2 separate regions of the Homo sapiens genome follow, and region 2 is linked to region 1. Evidence: fine-mapped QTL for protein levels in blood plasma. A gene starts in region 1. The other region holds a variant in brackets. All regions are shown on one strand. Distances are from middle to middle.

Region 1 (11,443 bases):
TTTATTTTTGAAAAGGGTGCCAAGAACATTTAATGGGGAAAGGATAATATTTTCAACATAAATGATGAAAAAAACAAATACCCATATGCAAAAGAAAGATTGGAGTTGGACCCCTAACACACATTATATACAAAAAATTAACTCAAATCGATTACAAACCCAAATGTAAGAGCTAAAATAATAAAACTCCTAGGAGGAGACATAGGTATAAATCCTTGGGACCTTGGATTAGGCAATAATTTATTAAATATGACATCAGAAGCACAATGAACCAAAAAATGTTTTAAATTGTATTTTATTAAAACTAAAAACTTCTATGTGTCTCAGGACGCTATCATGCATGAAGAGACAACCCACAGAACAGGAGTAAATATTTGCAAATTATATATCTGATAAAGATCAAAGATCCAAAATATGTAAAGAACTCTTACAATTCAACAATAAAAAGATAAACAATTGAATTAAAAGATGGGCAAAGGAATTCAACAGACATTCCTCTAAAGATGATACATAAATGGTCAGTAAGCACATGAGAATATGCTCAAAATCATTATTCACTAGGAAAATACAAATTAAAACCATAAAGAGATACCTCTTTATATCCACTATGGCTATCATTCTAAAAATTAAATATAGACAGAATAACAAATGTTGCCAAAAATGTGGAGAAAATGGGATGTTCATACACTGCTGGTGGGAATTTAAAATGTTTCAGCCACTGTGAAAAATAGTCTGGCAGTTCTGCAAAAAGTTAAACACTGAGCTACCATATGACCCACAGATTCACTCCTGTATATATTCCCCCAAAAAATGAAATCATATGCTCATGCAAACACTTGTATACAAATATTTATAGCAGAATTATTCACAATAGCTAATAAATGAGAATAACTCAAATGTCTATCAACTGAGGAATGGATAAACAAAATGTGGTATGTCCATACATTGGAATATTGTTCAATATCGTTCACTCATGTAAAGGAATGAAGTACTATATATATGCTACAACATGGAAGAACTTTGAAAACATCACGCTATGTGAAAGAAGCCACACAACATAGGCCACATATATTATGATTCTATTAATATGAAATGTCCAAATAGGTAAATTCATAAAAATATAAAGTAGATTAGTGTTTGCAGAGAATGCACGAATTAGTATTTCTACTTGTTGAAAATAGGAAGTGACTACTAACATGTATGTAGTTTCTTTTGGGGGTGATGGAAATGTTCCATAATTTCATAGTGGTAATAATTACATAACACCATGAGCATACTAACAGCCACTGAATTGTACACTGTAATGTAATAAATGTTATGTAATGGGAATTTGTGTCCATTTAAAAATTGTAAAAAATAGCCAACTATGGAAAAAATTTACTGGTTTTTTTTTTCAGATTCAATGTTATAAATGAAGGAAATAATTTCCTTTCCTGCAAACTTTATTGCACATTCATTCAGATTTTCTCTTTCACTGTCCCATTTCACATTCTGGAAAAATCAGATATTTTAAGACAAAACTACTCTTTTCCTCATTTGGAAAACATTTGTCCTATTATCTTGCATAGACAGTTATGTTTTTTGTCACTACTGTTTCTACCATGGCCTCAACTATACATATTAGTTATAACATTTAATGAAAGAAAATAACTAACATAAAAAAACTAGAAAAGATGATTGGCTACTTTCTTTCTTATACAGTGAATCCTAAAATGGCCTTGAAATCTGGTACCAGCTCCTCTATGATGCAGTCTAAGAGCAGTCTTGCCCTCACAGGGACCTAATGGGAGAAATGCTCACAAGTGCCCTGGTAGGCTGAACTTGGTCCCACTGTGGATCTTAAAACAGCACTGTATACTGGCTCCAGGCCCTCTCATCTGTGATTTGAGAGCAGGCCTGCCCACTCAGGGACCCAGTGGGACACATGCCCATTCATGAACCCAGAGGCAGGCCTGAAGACCTGGGTCTCAGCTGTAGGCCCTGAGGCAGCCCTGTTACTTGGTTCTCTTTTCTCTCAGCTGCAATCTGGACCAGCACTGTCTGCCTAGGAACCTACCCAGTGACCCAGTAGGAGCCCTCCTAAGGACCCAGAGGAAGCCACATTCATCCACATATCTCGTAACTAGCCTACAATCTGTGGACTCTAAAGTAGACCCTCATCCCAGTGCCAGACCTACTGACCAAGGTCTAGGAGGCAGTCCAATTTACCCAGGGAACAGACAGAATCTAAGCCTACTAGAGCCCCAGTTAACAGGCCTGCCAACCACAGACCTCACTGTTGACCCAGCAAAACCATGTGACCTGGCTCTACCTCCAGTTGACCACAATTCTGGAAGCAATCTTGTCAATCCTGGGAACCCAACAGGAGGATCCTGAGGATCTTTACCTGTAAAACCAGTCTATAAAGATGGGAAAAGGTGTTTGCTCCTTCAGATGCATAGAAACCAATGCAAAGTTACACAGATAATGATGAACCAGGCAAACATAATACCACCAAAGGAAACCAATGAAGTTCCAGTAACTAATCTCCACCCCAAATGGAGATCTACAAATTTCCCCCCAAAATTCAAAATAATCATCTTAAAGATGCTCAGTAAGATGCAAGAAAACACAGATAGACAACTAAATAAAATTAGAAAAACAATGTATGAACAAAATGAGAAGTTTAATAAAGAAATAGAAACCATTAAGAAAAAACACACAAAAATTATATAAGAACAGAACTGAATATTTTAATGGAGAGCTTCAACAGCAAACACAGTCACACAAAAGAAAGAATTAGTAACTTGAAGACAGGTCATGTAAATAGTTAATTAAAGGTGAAAAAAGAAAAAAAATTAAAGAAGAGTGAAGAAAGTATAAGGGACCTATGGAATACCATCAAGCATGCAAATACACATATTATGGGAGTCCTAGAAGGAGAAAAGAGGGAAATGAGCAGAAAGCTTATTTAAAGGAATACTGGAAGAAAAATGTAAAAGCTAGAGTATTGGTGGCAATATGGGGATACGAAAATCCTCATGCACTACTGGTAGAATTGTGGTGTGATGCAACCATTCTGGAGAGTTATTTGTCACTATTTAGTCACTTAAGTACATGCCTCTCATACAACAATCTCACTCCTGTGTATGCGTCTTGCAAGAGGATTTACCTGTCTCAAAGGGTATATGTAAAAAGATATTTATCAAAGCATTATTTCCTCATGGCAGGACAATAGAGACAATCCTGTTTTTATCATTAGGAGAGTGGAAACATTAAACCTCTTGGATGATCACCAAAGAGGGCTATACTGTAATAAAATGCAATTAATAAAATACATACATATAAACATATAAACATGGGAGGATGTTTTAAAACTAGCAATAACTAAAAAGAATAAGAAACAGGCAAGGTCTTTTTCCAATACTCTTTATATAAAATAAAAATACACACTTAAGACTTTCCTTTCCAGTAATGGTATACAAGGTAATTGAGACCAAACTTCCCACTTAAATTAGGAATGGTTGGTTATATATATATTCACTGGAGGTATTGAAAAGCAAAGACTGTGAAGAATTATGAATCCAAAGTTCAGAAGCAACATAGCAACCCAAAGGGGCAATTCTGTGTTTAAGGGCACTTTCCCCTTAGGGTATTTAACAGCTCCAGAATATTTGGCTGAGAGATTTAGAAGCACATTTTAAAGCCTTTAGTAAATAAAATTGCAGCGTCTAGAGTCCAAGGCTCATGAAACTGGGGCAAGGAGATGTTCCTGATAGACCCTTTACATATTGTGTTGAGATATCAAACTGATGGTAGAATTCAAATGGTCCATAAACATATGAAAAGATGTGTAAAGTCATTAATAATGAAAATTAAGGCAAGATACTGCTTCACTCATCAGATTGATAAAAAGTAAAATGCCTAGCAGAGTAAAACGATGGTAAATATATAATAAACTGAAAATATCCACTGTTGCAGATGGGTATTCAAATCCATGTAATACTCTGAAGAGCAATTTACCAATCTGATAGATTTCAAGATGTACATACATATATAGCCTATAACCCAATCTCTGCTATATACCCTAGAGAAAGTCTTGCAAATATGCTTAAGTAGACATACCGTATTTGTAGCAGTATTATTTGTAATGTTGAAAACTATGAAGAATCCAAAATTCAGCACTAGGGGAATAGAGTAACAGGTTCGGCCACATTCATACAATAGAATGTCGTATAGATGGTCATTAAAATTAATAAATTTTATCCTCATTATCAATGCTAATAAGTCTTAAAACCATAATAGTGATGACATATTTTACAATATGTGCATACCACTTATACATATAAAATACAAAACACAAAATTATGCTATATATTATTTACATAAATATGGATTAAAAACATAAACACATCTTGAAGAATACATATCAACTTCCTAATCCCACAACATTGGAAGGGAAATGAGATTGGAGAGAATTACAAAGGAAACTCCAACCATATTTGTCTTGATTTATTTCTTTTTTTGGGTTGGTGGATCTGGTAAAAACTGGAAAAGCTTCTAGACAAATTTTAAAAGAGCACTACCATTGCCATCTTTCATTTCTTAAGAAGAAATGACCTTAAACAAACTTGGCAAGTGTTTAATTTTATTAAAGTTGGGTGCATGTAAGGTACGAGTGTCTTTTATCTTGCTCTCTATATTTGTGAGTATATATATATATAACATTTCATAATTTAAAAGAAATTATTTCATTCTATGATAATGTGACAAAAGAAACAAAGATGTGAAATAAAAACTAATAGGAAGGAATCCACTTTCAGCAGTGTGGCCAGGAATTTGCTCTCCAAAGAAGGGATGATTAGGCTGAAATATGGAGAAAGAGAAAGAAAGTTGATTTAAAAAGTTTCAAGCAATACAGTATGTAAACAGACACCAATGTCTGCAGTCTAAGGATGGCATTAAATCTGCTGGTGGTTTATATGTGATCATCATTGTACTACAAGTTCTATGAGAGCATGGATACTGAATATCCTGTTCAATATTGTATTTTCATCACCAGAATAGCACTTAGCACACAGTATGGCTCAAAAAAAAAATCTCAGATAAAGTCAATGACATGGTTTAAGGGACTCAAACGTTAGAGTGCTCAGACAGTAACAAGGACAGATAGGATCAACTAAGAATCTGATCAGGTCAATGCTGTGAAATAGACAAGTGTGATCTTTGATAACTCCTTTCTAAAATCTCTTTGATCTTTTATCTCTTTTATCTTTCATTGATCCTCTACTCTTGAAATCCTTATTTTATATCACTTTCTTCCAGGACCATGTACTCAATCAACTGCTAAAAAAGAAAACCCAAAAACCCTAAAGTCTATAGTTATAACTCACTCAGTCCCAGAAATGAATCTGCAATGCATGAGCTACTATCATGGTAACATGTCCCTGACATTCTTTGTCAGCATCCTTTGTCACCTGCTTGTAAGGATTTTGAAAGAGATGGAGAAAGGTAGGTTGAAGGTTCCTTATCAGGAGGTTTGCTGTCAAAGCTCATTCTAAATGGAATACAAATTTTATCTTCCAGACATGCCTCAGTACCTATCAGAATTTAGCCTTGAGAAAAATGAGGCAACCACTGAGAGTAATGACCCTTTTAGGGAATCTGTGCTCAATTCTGAACTCTATTCAGAGGCCTTGGGGTGGGGCTTGTTTGTACATAGTGGCCACATAAAGCCTGGTAAACTCAGCTGGTCTCCAGGGCGAGGCTGAGGGCAGAGAGTTGGACACAACCCTGAGATTTATCCCTCACAATGCGGAAAGACAGACTTCTTCATTTATGTCTTGTGCTACTTCTTATCCTGCTTTCTGCCAGTGACTCAAACTCTACAGAACCGTAAGTCTCACTCAAGACCCCTTCCTCCAGAGTGCGTTTCAGTCTCTCCCTTGTGTCTTCGCTTTGCCTTCCTTTGTAAATGCCACCTTTCCACTCATTACAATACCTTCCAAATATAAGAAATTATTCCAGTTAATCCCTTGTTTGTCTTTCATTTATCCTCTATTCTTGAAATCATTTTTTCTACACTGGGCCAATCAGAGTCATAAATACGATTAGTCACTAGGAAGCATGATTAAATAAAACACTAGATCCCAACTTCACAGAACAGTTCTTTTGGATGGAAGGCACTGAATATAGAGATATTCGAAATATATAGTGAAGTGCAACTTAACATGTATTGTAGGCCATATATATATATACAGAAAGTATAGCTCCTTTATTTTTCAATCATGTATCAAGTCTTCACCAACAGCCCCCAGTGGGGGACCAAAGCAGGGAAAATAATTTTAACCCTATCCAGTTGTAAGTTGGTACAACTCAATAATTGTAAGACTTCTTTTCCACCTCTCCCCAGTTCCTCTCCTCTATAGTGTCTAGAGAACTGTGGTCTCCATTAACTCCTAATAGAGAAAACTGTCAGAGTCCTTGGTCTCAAAGTTCTCCGTCCTTCTTGGCTACTGTCAGTCTGACTTCTCCTTACTTGCTGGCATGCACTGTTGAAGTTTAGCCATCTGGTTTCTCTTGTGTGTTCAGGACCCAACAGTCCTCTCTAACTGACTGTCTCACTTCAGCTGTTTCATATCCCATAGAACTCCTACCTTTGCATCCTGCCTCAAATACTATGGCTATTGTTTCAACACAGCCTGTGATGCAGGGTCACCTTGCCCCTTTGCAGTCCAGGCCATTTAAGGTCCCTGGCCTTAACCCAGCTGCCTTTACATTTCTTCCAGAGAATGGTGAGAACTCTTGGGTCCAATAATAGCACATAGGCACTGAGGTGTCCTGGAGAGGTTAAACTTCTACCTCTCTCTTGCATACCCACACTGCACTTCTAGATGCCTATCGTGTCTCCTGTATTCCAGACTGATACAGGGAAGTCTTCAGAGTCCCAAATCGGGAAAGGGATAAGGGGTCCCTCTGCTCTGTGTGTTACCCTTATCCATCTAACACAAATAGCCTTCTTCAGGCCAAAGCGCAGAAAGCAGAAATAAGGAGTTCAATCCAGTAAGTCTCCTGCTTTCCTCAGGCTTTTTCCTTGCACAATTTCCTGGCAACCGGTAGGGGTACATTTCTCCCCCACTATCCCTCTACCTCATCTACAGCAGTGGGCTCTACTACTTCCAGCTGCTCTCCATCCAGAAAGCATATGGGAATATGTGGAGGCTATTTTGCTTTCTGAGAGCAGACTGAATGGATAAAGCGAGTAGCGTGTATTGGGTCAGAAACATTAAGCAATTTGTGGTTCTGGATGCATTCCTACACTACATTGGACCATGCTGCCATTGAAACCATCCTTTTACGTTGTGTCTGCCACTGAACAAAGAACAACAAGCCTCATGCCCTAGTTGTCACAAGCAGAAGGGGTGTTTTCTCCCTTTATAAGGAGAAAACTTAACTTCATCCCTCCAGAATTAACCCTTGATGTGATAAATGTGAGAGACTACAAAAGAGAACCAATAGCCATTCTCCCCTGCCTTGGGGCAGTAAGCTTCAGAAAGATGAAGGTTTCAGGGGAATAAAATGAAAAAGAGAAAATTAAAAGTTATCACTTTAATATTTGCTACATTTAGTCCCTGCTAAAGAGGCAAATATTTAAAATGCAAACATTCATGATTGAGTAAACATATATTAAAACATTTTAGCAGCTCACTACCAATGACATCTTGGGCAAGTTTGTCAACCTGGATTTGTTCTGATTTCAATATCTGTTAAAAAAATATTAACTGAACTCATATAAAATAGTTCTTTAGAATATCAAATATATGTGGAATTAATTTTTAATCGTGATATCTTTTAGGCTTATAATTTATAAGAATAAAAATAGTAAATAAATTATAAATATATATATACCTTCTTATTAAGATCAAAGAACTAAAGGAAAAATTTTTTGATGGGGATGTAAAAAATGATACATTTTTATTATTTATTATGCTGTTAAAAGAGCAGTGATCAGGAGATCAGAAGCATCCAGATACCAGAAAAAGATTAAGACATAAGAGACTAGCTGAATGACTATCAGTGAGTTACTGAACTGCCCTCAGCTTCTCTGCTAGAGAACAAAACCTTACTACTCATACAGTAAAATCATCTGAAACTTGGATGATTTCAGAGTGGCCCTGGAGATTCATGGCATATAGTTTTGCCCAGGAACACTTTAAAACACATGTAGCAAGACTGGTGTGCTGGAGCAGACTACATGGAGGATGAGGGGACCAAATTTGAGTTCCACATTCCACAACTCAATTATCCTTGGATTCTCTCCTCCTAGTCTCACACCTATTAATTTTGTAAAGCAACAATATTGGGTTTCTTGTGTCAAATTGCCTGTCCAGAAAACAATTTAAAAAGTAAGAGTTTATGTTGGCAATGGAAAGTAAGGGTAGTAAAATAATATAAGAAAATAATAGTTTTTACTTGCAAATTTACTCTATAAATGGCCTAACCCTGCAGATATTGAATCATGAATCACTGAATCATTAAAGCTTTGAAGAGTTACATTTTAGTCACAATTTACTGATTTTACTGATTTGGCATGGGGGCAGGGATTTTATCTATCTGTTATGGATTCAAGTTTTGGGGACTGATGAGGATCTCATGTTTTAGCTTCCATGAACATGGAGAGTATCATGCATGTACCTTACAGCATTGCTGGGAAGATTAAATGGCTTAATACAGAGACAGCTTAACAATTCTTGTCATGTGGCAGATGCTCAAAAACAGCAACAACAAAAACACATTCTCTTTCAGCCCATGGGATTTCAGAGTGTGGAGAGATTATATTGAATTGGAGGCTTCTGGAAAGTGACAGGAAAATATGGAGTGGGGGGCATTAGAGACAAAGGACACTCATCAATAAAGCTAAGGCCAGAATGTGAGGCTTACACAAAAAATTGCCTGTGCCTCTGAAAAACTGAAAACTTTCAACAATTTAAATAAAAAAGAAAAGACTTTTCAAAATAATATGACTTTTAGTACTCATATAAACTTTGTTTTGTTTTTTTTTGAAACAGGGTCTCACTCTGTCACTCTGAAAGCACTGGTGCAATCATAGCTCACTGTAGCCTCAACCTCGTGGGCTTAAGTGATCCTTCTTGCCTCAGCCTCCTGAGTAACTGCTACTACAGCCATGTGCCACCTGGCTAAATTTTTTATTTTAATTTTTGTAGAGATGGGGGACCTCACAATGTTGTGCAGGCTGTTCTCAAACTCCTGGCCTCAAGTGACTCTCCTGCCTCAGCCTCCCAAAGTGCCGGGAACTAGGTATAAGCCACTTCTCCCAGCCTGAACCTGTTTGTTTTTTTTTATTGAAAAGATAACCTATCCACCCATGTGATTCGAAACAAACATGTTTATAAACATGGACATACTAATATTAAATTATTAATGTTAATTGCCTCAAGAAATTGAGCATAAAGGGAAATGATAATAAAATACAGTGTGTGTTTGTGTAGTGTGTGTGTAGCAGGGAGTTGTGCATGTAAATAATTGACAAAATTTTCAAACTCGTTGATAAAATATTGACTTTGACTGAGCTGTATCTGAGGAGCCTAAGAGAAACAGCAAATACTTTTTTTCAGTGTTGCTGATATTAAGAAAATGATTTTGCAATATAGACATGTGTTATTTTGTGTAATGATATATGCTTACTGAAGTTCTTTCAGTTGAATTTCTGTAAATCTAGTCACGGTGTTCATTCCAAAGTGATGTTTATCTAGACAGATTTTAATGTAAGTCCTTTTTACAATGAATAATCACTCCCAATTTTTTATATATGTGTGTGTGTTTGTGTGCGTGCACTTTTATGGATATATATTCAAGAATTCAGATTCTTTTTAAAGGTCAAAGTTAAAGTTTAAAGAGCTCAGACTGCTCTTTACAGCAAGGAATGCCTGTGAAATTGTAACATCTTGGAAAGCAATCTCCAGTGTTGTATGGCTCCAGATTGTGTGGCTGAGGCATGGCTGATGAGTAAAAGATAAAATTTTTGTGCTGATCTGTGACAGAACCTCCATTGACTTAGTCCATTGACTTTTAGAATAAAACTGATTGCACCAATTAATACATATTGTTATGAAAACACATTTATGGATGAAAACGCTTACTATCATCAGTTTTTCTCTAATTTAGACTTCTTCCTTTCCCAGGCAGTATATGGTGCTGGTCCCCTCCCTGCTCCACACTGAGGCCCCTAAGAAGGGCTGTGTCCTTCTGAGCCACCTGAATGAGACAGTGACTGTAAGTGCTTCCTTGGAGTCTGGCAGGGAAAACAGGAGCCTCTTCACTGACCTGGTGGCGGAGAAGGACTTATTCCACTGTGTCTCCTTCACTGTGAGTGCTACGGTGCCAGCTGGCTATCCCTGCTTGATACATTTTATTGAGCTCTATAGGTCATGGTGATGGAGCTCTGGTGTGCGATCCCAAGGTATGACTTTAAGAATGTAGTTAGGACTTCAGGGGCCAGGTGCGGTGGCTCACGCCTGTAATCCCAGCACTTTGGGAAGCCAAGGCGGGCAGATCACGAGGTCAGGAGATCGAGACCATCCTGGCTAACAAGATGAAACCCCGTCTCTACCAAAAATACAAAAAATTAGCCGGGCGTAGTGGCAGGCGCCCGTAGTCCCAGCTACCTGGGAGGCTGAGGCAGGAGAATGGCGTGAACCCGGGAGGCGAAGTTTGCAGTGAGCCGAGATCGCCCCACTGCACTCCAGCCTGGGCGACAGAGCGAGACTCCGTCTCAAAAAAAAAAAAAAAAAAAAAAGGAATGTAGTTAGGACTTCAGAAAGGACTAAAAATAGTGAGTTTTCAACTATTAAGGAACAAAGCATTTTTTACCAGAGTAAGGAAGAAATACTCTTCTAAATTTCATTCCTAAATAATAATCCTATTGCCCACAAAAATTTCATGACTTAGAGGAGTTTTCTAGTTTTGATTGTAACTGTCTCTTTAAGGATCGGGCTGGACATTTCCTAGAAATAGATCATATGAAAATTTCATGATAAAAACTTTGCATGCAACATAATTTTTTGCACATGCAGGATACCCTAAGCAAACACCTAGTACCTCTTTAAAGTTGCCTAACTTGGGAAACTCAGCTCCTATGCTCTCCCATATTTTTTCAGAGATGTTTCTCTCCATTGCTTCAGAATATACATACTCAGTTAAAAGGCATCTAATTTAATAACTAGAGCTCTAGGTGAACTCCATGGAGATCTGGGTTCTATTGATGGCCACTCTTACTGATACCATTCCTCCATCTCACATTAATATCGTCACTCTTATGTCTGAAGAAATAGTCACACCTTCCTTCTCCTTGGTGAAGCTGAAGGAGAGATAGGAAATAGCAATGACTGAAGAATGCAGAGGGAGAAGACTGCACAGTTCCTCAGTAGTAAAAAATCCTTTGCTT
Region 2 (11,443 bases), 40 kb after region 1:
GCTCTTATGAGGTATGTTCCTTCAATACCTAGTTTATTGAGAGTTTTTAACATAAAGGGATGTTGAATTTTATCAAAGGCCTTTTCTGCACCTATTGAGATAACCATGTGGTTTTTGTCTTTAGTTCTGTTTATGTAATGAATCGCACTTATTGATTTGTGTATGTTGAGCCAAGCTTGCATCCCAGGGATGAAGCCTACTTGGTTGTGGTGGATAAGCTTTTTGACGTGCTGCTGGATTTGGTTTGCAAGTATTTTGTTGAGGATTTTTGCATCGATGTTCATCAGGGATATTCGCCTGAAGCTTTCTTTTTTTGTTGTGACTCTGCCAGGTTTTGGTATCAAGATGATGGTGGCCTCATAGAATGAGTTAGCGAGGAGTCCCTCCTTTTCAATTTTTGGAATAGTTTTAGTAGAAATGGTACCAGCTCTTCTTTGTACCTATGGTAGAATTCAGCTGTGCATCCATCTGGTCCTGGGCTTTTTTTGGTTGGTAGATTATTTATTACTGCCTCAATTTCAGAACTCGTTATTGGTCTATTCAAATATTCAGTTTCTTCCTGGTTCAGTCTTGGGAGGGTGTATGTGTCCAGTAGTTTATCCATTTCTTCTAGATTTTCTAGCTTATATAGACAGAGGTGTTTATAGTATTTGCGGATGGTTGTTTGCGTTTCTGTGAGGTCAGTGGTGATATTCCCCTATCATTTCTGATTGTGTCTACTTGATTCTTTTCTTTTTTTCTTCTTTATTAGTCTAGCTAGCAGTCTATCTATTTTATTAACTTTTTTTCAAAAAAACCAGCTCCTGGATTCATTGTTTTTTTAAGAGGGTTTTTCATGTCTCTATCTCCTTCAGCTCAGCTTTGATCTTTGCTATTTCTTGTCTTCTGCTAGCTTTGGGGTTTGTATGCTCTTGGTTCTACAGTCCTTTTAGTTGAGATGTTAGGTTGTTGATTTGATATCTTTCTAGCTTTTAGATGCAGGCACTTAGTGCTATAAATTTCCCACTTAACACTGTTTTAGCTGCATCCCAGAGATTGCAGTACATTGTCTCTTTGTTCTCATTAGTTTCAAATAACTTCTTGATTTCTGCCTTAATTTCATTGTTTACCCAAGAGTCATTCAGGAGCAGTTTATTCAATTTCCATATAGTTGTGTGGTTTTGAGTGAATTTCTTAATCTTGAGTTCTAAGTTGATTGCACTGTCGTCTGAAAGACTGTTATGATTTCAGTTCTTGTGCATTTGCTGAGGAGTGTTTTACTTCCAATTATGTGTCCAATTTTAGAGTAAATGCCATGTGGCAATGAGAAGAATGTATATTCTGTTGAATTTTGGTGGAGAGTTCTGTAGATATCAATCAGGTCCACTTGATCCAGAGTTGAGTTCAGGTCCTAAATATCTTTGTTAATTTTCTGTCTTAATCATCTGTCTAATATTGTCAGTGGTGTGTTAAAGTCTCTCGCTATTATTGTGTGGGAGTCTAAGTCTCTTTGTAGGTATATAAGAACTTGCTTTATGAATCTGGGTGCTTCTGTATTGGATGCATATATATTTAGGATAGTTAGCTCTTCTGGTTGAATTGAATCCTTTACTATTATATACTACCCTTCTTTGTTTGTTTGATCTTTGTTGGTTTAAAGTCTGTTTTGTCAGAAACTAGGATTGCTTTTTTCTGTTTTCCATTTGCTTGGTAAATTTTCCTCCATCCCTTTATTTTGAGCCTGTGTCTGTCCTTGCGTGTGAGATGAGTCTCTTGAAGATAGCATACTGATGATGGGTCTTGGCTCTTTATTCAGCTTGCCATTCTGTGTCTTTTAACTAGAGCATTTAGCCCATTTACATTTAAGGTTAGTATTTTTATGGGTGAATTAGATCCTGTCATCATGATGCTTTTTTGCAGACTTGTTTATGTGATTGCTTCATAGTGTTCTGGCCTGTGTACTTCAGTGTGTTTTTGTAGTGGCTGGTAATGGTCTTTCTTTTCCAAACGTAGTGCTTTCTTCAGGAGCTCTTGCAAGGCAGGCCTTGTGTTGATAAATTTCCTAACCATTCACTTGTTTGAAAAGAATCTTATTTCTCCTTTGCTTTTGAAGCTTAGTTTGGCCAGGTATAAAATTCTGGGTTGGAAATTATTTTCTTTTAGAATGTTGAATATTGGCCCCCAATTTCTTCTGGCTTCCATGGTTTTGGCAGAGAGGTCCACTGTTAGTATGATATGTTTCCTTTTGTAGGTGACTTGGCCTTTCTCTCTAGGTGTCCTTAACATGGTTTCTTTCATTTTGGCATTGGAGAATCTGATGATTTTGTGTCTTTGGGTTGATGTTCTTGTGGAGTATCTTACTGGCCTTCTCTGCATTTCCTGAATTTGAATGTTGGCCTGTCTTGCTAGGTTGGGGAAGTTCTCCTGGATGATATCCTGAAGTATGTTTTCCAACTTGGTTCCATTCTCCCTGTCTCTTTCAAGGATCCCAATCAGTCATAGGTTTGGTCTTTTTACATAATCCCATATTTCTCAGAGGTTTTGTTCATTTCTTTTCATTCTTTCTTCTCTATTCTAGTCTGCCTGTCTTATTTCAGATAGATAATCTTCAGGCTCTGAGATTCTTTCCTCCTCTTGGTCTATCCTGCTACTGATACTTGTGATTGCATTGTGAAGTTCTTGAGATGCGGTTTTCAGCTCCATCAGGTCAGTTATGTTCCTCTCTAAACTGGCTATTCTGGCTACCAGCTCCTGTATTGTTTTATCATGATTCTCAGCTTCTTTTCATTGGGTTACAGCTCAGCAAAGTTTATTGTTATCCACTTTCTGAAGTCTACTTCTGTCAATTCTTAGCCTCAGCCCGGTTCTGTGCCCTTGCTGGTGAGGTGTCACAGTCATCTGGAAGAGAAGAGACACTCTGGCATTTTGAGTTTTCGTTGTTTTTGAATTAATTCTTTCTCATCTTTGTGAACTTATCTACCTTTAATCCTTGAGGCTGCTGCCCTTTGAATTAGATTTGTGTTAGGTCTTTTTTGTTGATGCTGTTGTTTTCTGTTTGTTTGTTTGTTTTTCTTTTAGCAGTCAAGCCACTCTATCATAGGGCTGCTGAGGTTTGCTGGGGGTCCACTCCAGACCCCAGTTGCTTTGGTTTCTCCCGTACGTGGAAGTATCACCAGCAAAGGCCATGAAACAGCAAAGATGGCAGCCTGTGCCTTCCTCTAGAAACTCCATCCTGTGGGGGTACTAACTTGTTGCCAGCCCACATGCAACTGTTGGAGGTGGCTGGAGACCCTCATTGGGAGGTCTCGCCCAGTCAGGAGGAATGGGATCAGGGACCTTCTCAAAGAAGCAGCCTGGCTGCTTTTTGGTAGAGCAGGTGGGCTGCATTGGGTGGGATCCTTCCTCACCTGGATCACCTGTATTCTCCAAAGCCAGCAGGTTGGAGTGGCAGAGTCAACCAAACTGCAGAGATGGCAGACACCCCTGCCCCCCAGGAGCTCGGTCCCAGGGAGAGATCAAAGCTCTGTCTTTAGAACCCTGGCTGGAGTACCTGAAGCCCCCACAGAAAGGTCCCACTCGATGAGGAGGAATGGATCAGGGTCCCACTTAAAGAAGCAGTCTGATCACAATCTGGCAAGGCAGCTGTGCTGCATCGTGGGGGACCGTTCCTCATCCAGACCATCTGTATTCCCCAAGCCTTCAGGCTGGAGTGGCTGAGTCCTCAGAACCACAGAGATGGCACCCACCTCTCCCTGCAGGAACTCAGGTCCATCTCAGGTGGACTCCAACCCACTGCCGTCGGCTGGCTGAGATTCCAAGACAGTGAGTCTTAACCTGTGAGGTGCTGTGGAAGTGGGGTCCACAGGATGATGCTCTTTGGCTCTCTGAATTTAGCCCCCTTCCTAGGGATATATACAAACAGATTTCCTGCCTTTCCAGGGATCCCAGGGCCGGATTATGTAAAACTCCAGGGTTTCTGTGTGCCTGAGCAGCTGCTCTGCCAAGACTCCACATAGCTTTGTGTATCAGACCCAAGACCCTGGTGGCATGGGCTCACAAGGGTATCTCCTGATCCATGGGTTGCAGAGATCCTTGGGAGAAATGTGATTTCCCAGGCGAGGTCGCACAATCACTCACCGCTTCCCTTGGCTGGGGGTGGGGGTTCCTTCCGTTGCCCTCCCCCACCTCCGCCCCTGCTGCTTTTCATTGTTCTCTGTGGCTCAAGTTGCTTGCCTAGTCAGTCTCAATGTGAGAACCTGGGTATTTCAGTTGAAGGTGCTGCATTTAATAAGCTTTTTCATTCCACTCCGTAAGTGCTGCAGACCGCAGCTGCTTCTAATGGGCCATCTATACGATTTTCTGTCTGAGAATAAGCCTGAGTAGACATAGATGTTTAACAGGTGGCAATAATAATATGTAGCTAAATTCCTCAGGGCATTATGTATTAATTAAACACAGATGCAAGTTACGTCTTCTTTCTATATTTGGTCTATTTTTACCTCTAGACTCTACAATGAAGTTTTAATTAATCCTTCATAACTTAAGATTTTGTTAATCTTTGGAAGCATTTTCCCAAGTAGGTTTCATTTCTTTATAACAAAACAACACTGTTAAATATAAGGAAAATCTTCAACTATCTCTAAGGTACCAACTACATGAACGTACTCAAGAAAAGATTGGTGATAATTATTTTATTTCTCTCAGTTCATTCTATTTCAAAAGAAAAGTAAGTAACAGTTCTGCCTTTGATCCCCCCACTGCTACAGGTATATAATCTGCTAACTGTGAAGGATCTCACCAATTTTCCTGACAATGTGGACCAGCAGGAGGAAGAACAAGGACACTGTCCCCGTCCTTTCTTCATTCATAATGGAGCCATCTATGTTCCCTTATCAAGTAATGAAGCAGATATTTATAGCTTCCTCAAGGTAAAATTCTCACTACTTATTAACATGCTGGCTTGTGAGTTTTTGAATGTTAATAAAACTCTGTATCTATTCATAATCTTAGTAATTATGTAGCCTTGCCTCTCCATTTTTCAGCAGACAAAAATGAAGCCAATAAAAAGGTTAAAGTCTCTTGTGAGGATCACACAAAAGCTCAGTATGTGAGTCAGGGCTAGATCTAACCTCTGCCTATTCATCTGGATACTTTTTAGTTATATTTAGGTTTTTTTATTTGCAAACCAAAAAATAATGAATAAAGAATAAAATCTTAATAATCCATAAGTTTAGTAATTTCACTACTCTATATTTACTGTCAAGTGTTTCGCCATAGAATTAATATAAGGATACTGGAATTACATAGAGAAGTCTCTAAGGATAATATGTTTTATATATTCTAATCAAGCTTACAAGTAGATTGAACAATTATTTTTTTCCAGGGGATGGGATTGAAGGTGTTCACTAACTCAAAAATC[C/T]GAAAACCAAAGTCGTGTTCAGTCATCCCTTCCGTGTCTGCAGGAGCAGTAGGTCAAGGATACTATGGAGGTAAAACAGCAATTTGCTTTTAATTTTATTTCATGTCCAACAATATTACTATGCCCAAAATGCTAAAATGAGGTAATGTAGCCCTATTTCCACTTTATACACACAAAGAAACCAAGATTCAAATTAATTGTTTCTTGCTGAGGTGACTTAGCTGGTGATAGCTAGAACTGATCAGAGATTTTTTTTTAGATACATCCGATACTTCAGGGCACAAAATCAGATAAAATACAAGATTCTGATGTACTGTAAGAGAGGGAAAATGCTGACAATGGAAAGAAAGAGTAATTCTGATTATGGAAACAGGAAAGACATTCATAGGGATGCTGTATTTTAAAAAACATAAAGAAGGACAAAGGGCTTCACTGGTGACAAGAAACAACGTGAACATCACAGAAATATCTCATAATCCATGGCCAAAACCACTATTCAAATACAGCAGCCTTTTTCAACACCCTTGAACTTATTAAAACATCTGTCCCATCACCAGGTCTACTTACACTTGAACACTACCCAGCCATTTGTCATCCCTCTCTCATGAATCCAACTCCCTTTTTCTCCAAAATATCCCTGACATCCATCTGCTCACAAATATTTATATGCTCGGATTGGAAATCAGATATCCTATATGTGAAGTGGGTGTGTCATATCTCCTCTCTAAGCCTCAAATCCTTCATTAATAAATTGAAGGAATTTGACTAATGGCTCTTCAAGACCTTGCAAAACGCCCAATAAGATAACTAAATATAATGCACCAACACAAATTAAGAACTTTGATTGTTTAAATAGCATTTTCTATGTTCCTTGGCATTTAAGATTAATATCCATCTTTAAATGAGCTTTATTATTAAGAAAATGACACCTTTTAAAGGGCCATGGACTGTTTAAGTATACCTTCAATGATAGCACAAATTTCAAACAATTTCTCAAAAATGGTAAATATGATTTTGTCTTGTAACTGAGATGTTATATAAATAACGAGAATAAAGAATAAGGGAAAGGAAAATAGCCATGAGATTTACATAGAACAAACTTCAAGTTTAAACCATTGAGGTTTGGGGGGAAGGAAATGTTCTTGAATTTATTAAATTCAAGATGGAAAATTGACGGCATATAATAACACTCAGGAAAAAAAGAGCTTCTAAAATGTGTGATGAATACATAACAGGGATTGAAATTAGTAGCTATAAATGAATCAGGTATATGAGGAAATAAAAGAGCTAAGAAAACTGAAATATCTTGTGAAATTTCTTGATAAGAACTTCAACAACATGAAGCCATTTCCATGACTACAGAGAACAATGAAAAGCAGCAGGGGTGGAGGTGGGGGAGGGCAACGGAAGGAACCCCCACCCCCAGCCAAGGGAAGCGGTGAGTGATTGTGCGACCTCGCCTGGGAAATCACATTTCTCCCAAGGATCTCTGCAACCCATGGATCAGGAGATACCCTTGTGAGCCCATGCCACCAGGGTCTTGGGTCTGATACACAAAGCTTTGATGCAGAGACTATGAAAGGACACGTGGAAAGTCAAGTTGACAGTAAGAGTAGGAAGGATATAGCCATGGTCCACTAAATGGAGTTGAAATAACACATAATGCCATGGTTTGTTAACTGCAATAACTGGAGGAGTTGGAGGGCCCTTGACATATCCAGTAGAAAATGGAAAATAGTTCATTTAGGTGCATCATCCTTTTAGATATTTCAATATTTAAGATAAGAGTGAAGACAGAGAAGACAAAACAGTGAGAAATCAGAGTCAGAGATAGAAATTGTTACCACTTGGAAGGACATGGGGCAAGGTGTATGATATTCACTAAAGAAATTACTACTGATGCTTTCTTCAGTGGAGAAAACTGTTAGGGTGAAATTGCTAGAAATATATTTTTCCTTGTAAGTATTCTTTCACAAGGTATTTCTGAAATATCAGATGGGATACATGGAGGGAGATCTTAAATCAAATTCAATTAGTAAGCATGATTTCAGGCACAACGTGGACAAAATTGCTTTCATGTCTAGCTCTCCACCCTCTCACGTTGGTAAATGATTTCTTTGTCTGAACCACACAGCCATTCCAAATGGAAATATCTGTTTTTGACAACTGAATTGTTTATTTCAGATGTCAAAAAATAAGTGGAATAAAATCTAATGCTCTAATCTTATTTCCCAGAGAACAACAGTTTTGCAAAGTTCCATACAGTGATTTAAAGTAAATTTAATTTATGTAAAAGTAATTTAATGTAAATCATTAAATTCTGTTCACTCCACTGGTAATTTCATTTTTAGTATAGCAACCACTCTCAATGTCTAAAGAGCATTTTACAATTCCTGCTCAGTTTCTCTAAGAATGAAGCAATACTGTCTCAATTTCAAAATTGGTCCTTCGCCACAAAACCCATAAAACTGTCTCCAAGTGATCTCGTTTTTCCAGCTTCCATTCACATCAAATTATGCTATGTCTAGGATACATAGAATTTCCACCTTTGACAAAGACTCCTCTCTTTTCAGGGAATGAGGGATCACAAAGTATTTCCCAAGTTCTACAACTTCTACAAGACTTTTAGGACAGTCTGAGCAGGAAAACTGAAAATTTTGTTCTCTAACGTCTCACATGTGCACCATGAAATTAATGAATGTTTTTCCCTAACTAGACAATTTTCTCTTACTTTAGCAGGTCTAGGAGTAGTAGAGAGACCATATGTTCCTCAATTAGGCACATATAATGTGATACCCTTAAATAATGAACAAAGTTCAGGGCCAGTCCCTGAAACGGTGCGAAGCTATTTTCCTGAGACTTGGATCTGGGAGTTGGTGGCAGTGAAGTAAGTAACTTTACTTTCCTCCATTTGCTGGAGGGGAGGGAATGTGGTTCCTCCAACATTTTCAATTCTAAGACAATCTTCCTGAAAAGTTCTGAATAATTATCTTAACCTCTTCCTCTTTAGGATAGACCTAAGTAAAATGCGCAATTGCATAGGCTCATTAATACAATTGTCTCAGTGCTGAGCAATTCTAAAATAATTATTTCTGATACTGTCAAATAGTAGACATGAGAACTATAAATATTCAGTTCTATATATACTGCTTAATGTCGTTCAGGGAGCCTTCTGTAAATATCAGGGCTGGAGCAGGCACATAAACAAATCAGGCTACATTAATCCAGTGGTCTAATTGTTGGTCATGATTCTTAAAAATGCTTATTTATGGGATTATACAATAGCAAGGGAAGTTAAGGACTAAAATGAATCGCAATTCAAATATTTTTATTCAAAGTACAGACATGTGGGATATGATCATTTGTTGATAAGGGGGAGAGGTACCATTCAGTGGCTTTCATTTTCCCAACTCAGATCCCAGGACATAATCTAGTGTTCACACGAATGCACACTCGCATATACCCTTAAGTGGATTCAGTTCTTGACGTTAGCTTTATGCATATTAATTCTCACTTGAGAAAAGGTGGCTTACATTCATTATTTCTGTTCTTCACTTGCCCTCCTCCCCAGCTCATCAGGTGTGGCTGAGGTAGGAGTAACAGTCCCTGACACCATCACCGAGTGGAAGGCAGGGGCCTTCTGCCTGTCCGAAGATGCTGGACTTGGTATCTCTTCCACTGCCTCTCTCCGAGCCTTCCAGCCCTTCTTTGTGGAGCTCACAATGCCTTACTCTGTGATTCGTGGAGAGGTCTTCACACTCAAGGCCACGGTCCTAAACTACCTTCCCAAATGCATCCGGGTAAGGAAAATGAGGGTGAACAGGAAAGGTGGGTAGAACAAAAGATTCCTTTGATCAGTCAGCTACTGATTCTGTTCCTGAGACTAAGGATAATTCAAGGGATTGTGTGTTAGCACTGTGAATAATTAGTGCTATGCAAAGCAGGACATGATCAGAAAGATAATACAATGATATATGTGCTATGGGTGCTTAAATCACGGCTCTCTAAGCCACACCTTGCTTTTCTATTTCTTAGCGCTTGCAGAATTCTTTGCTGCAAGTTAGGTTATATGCCAGGAACATTCTTGAAGCTGACACACAACTCAGCTTTCTCAGTTCCACGAGAGTCATTCTCCAACCCGTCATCTTGAAATCTCCAAAATATATAATTTTAATTTATCTTATAGCACTTATCTCTTTGTAAATTATGTAATAGTGGTTGTATATAGATCATCTTTCTTGTGACACAATATCCTCAAGATCGGGAGCCTCTCATCTACCATTCCCAGTGTTTTATGTCTTGTATGGATTAGACATGTAATATATGTTGTAAGAAATAGGAGAAGAAAGGAAGGAAGAAACTATGAAAATCTACATAGCAGCAGATAGTATTCCCTAGGGCAATATACAATCACTGCTTTTCCCTTTCCTCTGCCACTGCCAAGCCTGCACGTCCACAAGCTACCCTAAGGCAAATGCCAAATCCTCCTAATACACAACCAATCTTGATTTGTATCATTGCCATTGCCATGCTTCTTAAAGCATGGATGAATCTATGTGACATACATTTTTCTTACAAATCCCAATTTACTGCAGCATCTCACACTTGGCCCCAATTCTATGTGTTCGTGTCGTTCCATATTCTGATCATTTCTGTCTCTGCCTCACATGGGGTGATAGGTCAGTGTGCAGCTGAAAGCCTCTCCAGCCTTCCTAGCTTCCCAAAATACAAAGGGAGAAGAATCCTATTGTATCTGTGGAAATGAGAGACAAACCTTGTCTTGGACAGTGACTCCTAAAACTCTGGGTGAGTGACAGTACCCAAAAGGGCCTATCAATCAACAAGGACGGTGGCTGTCTGAGTACTTTTTTCATCATATTCTCTCTTTTATTTGCCATAGATATAATTCTATAAAGTTAGTTTTTTTTCCTATTTCTATCCACTATGACCTCCTCCCACTGTTCTCACCCAAGCTAGTCCCCAGAATCACTATCTTGGACATTGGCTACTTAGTATACATTAACCTTGTGGGTTTCTTTTTTTTTAGCCTTATTTTCTATTCTGGACAACTATAAGTTTAAGGTGCAGCCCTTAAAGGTGATTGGACTATCAAAGTGGATACTCATGTTTTCAATATTCCTTGTTTTAGGGAATGTGAACTTCTCAGTGAGTGCAGAGGCAATGCAGTCCTTAGAACTCTGTGGAAATGAGGTTGTTGAGGTCCCTGAGATTAAAAGAAAAGACACAGTCATCAAAACCCTGTTGGTGGAGGTAACATATTTTTGGGAGTCCCTAACAACTGTAAGAATGCAACACCGGGCGGTCACTCTTGAGACAACAAAGAACCATTAATATCATGCTCACACAATACATCCTGTAAGACTAATGGAATTTCCTGCCCTAAAAGCATTGCAGCAGACAACATTGCCAGCTATTGTAAATTTTTTTTCACAAATTATTTGAGTGCAATTTCCTTTTTTTTTTTTGAGACGGAGTTTTGCTCTGTTGCACAGGCTGAAGTGCAGTGTTGCGATCTCGGCTCACTGAAAGCTCTGCCTCCCGGGTTCATGCCATTCTCCTGCCTCAGCCTCCCGAGTAGCTGGGACTACAGGCGCCTGGCTAATTTTTTTTTTTTTTTTTTTGTATTTTTAGTAGAGACGGGGTTTCACCATGTTAGCCAGGATGGTCTCAATCTCCTGACCTCGTGATCCTCCCTTCTCGGCCTCCCAAAGTGCTGGGATTACATTGAGCGCAATTTCTTGATCTCCACCTCTCTCCTAAGATTCACATATCTCTCATACCCATTAGCTTTGATTTACTGCCCTTATTATCTCTTCCCATTTTCTCTCTACCACCCTCCCTGGTTCTTCAATGTTTTATGGATTTGTAATAATTCAATAACAAGTAGGATGTTATGTTCTCACTTATAAGTGGGAGCTGAATGATGCAAACACATAGACACATGGAGGCGAGCAACATATATGGGGCCTGTCTGAGAGTGGGAGTGACAGAAGGGAGAGCATCAGGAAGAATAGCTAGTGGATG

Alleles and levels. Alleles are on the strand shown, and positions count from the first base shown. The strength of an association depends on the size of the effect and on how common the allele is.
In carriers of allele T in region 2, the plasma level of the protein whose gene starts at base 5,738 in region 1 tends to be lower than with C alone (moderate association).

Evidence for each region. PIP is the posterior inclusion probability: the model's chance that the variant is causal. The UK Biobank Pharma Proteomics Project read protein levels with antibody pairs (Olink). The fine-mapping took linkage between variants from a reference panel, not from the people measured, so its PIPs are less certain.
Region 2: its variant is fine-mapped to the plasma level of the PZP protein (UK Biobank, PIP above 0.99). The variant lies in the coding sequence of PZP. If it changes the protein, the assay may bind it differently, which can mimic a change of level.

Annotation. Positions count from the first base shown.
Region 1 is chr12:9,202,690-9,214,132 of GRCh38, reverse strand. PZP (PZP alpha-2-macroglobulin like) reads left to right here and starts at 5,738. Exons shown (of 36, transcript NM_002864.3): 1 at 5,738-5,874; 2 at 10,182-10,365. The coding sequence starts at 5,792. It also overlaps a transcript of KLRG1 not described here.
Region 2 is chr12:9,162,894-9,174,336 of GRCh38, reverse strand. It overlaps PZP (PZP alpha-2-macroglobulin like), which reads left to right. Exons shown (of 36, transcript NM_002864.3): 16 at 4,746-4,907; 17 at 5,363-5,468; 18 at 8,135-8,285; 19 at 8,970-9,198; 20 at 10,078-10,204; 21 at 10,548-10,669. It also overlaps a transcript of KLRG1 not described here. Among named protein-coding and RNA genes, the nearest start is that of PZP, 40 kb to the left of the region's middle. RefSeq lists an enhancer at 3,725-4,236. The variant C/T (reference allele first, on the strand shown) is at 5,399.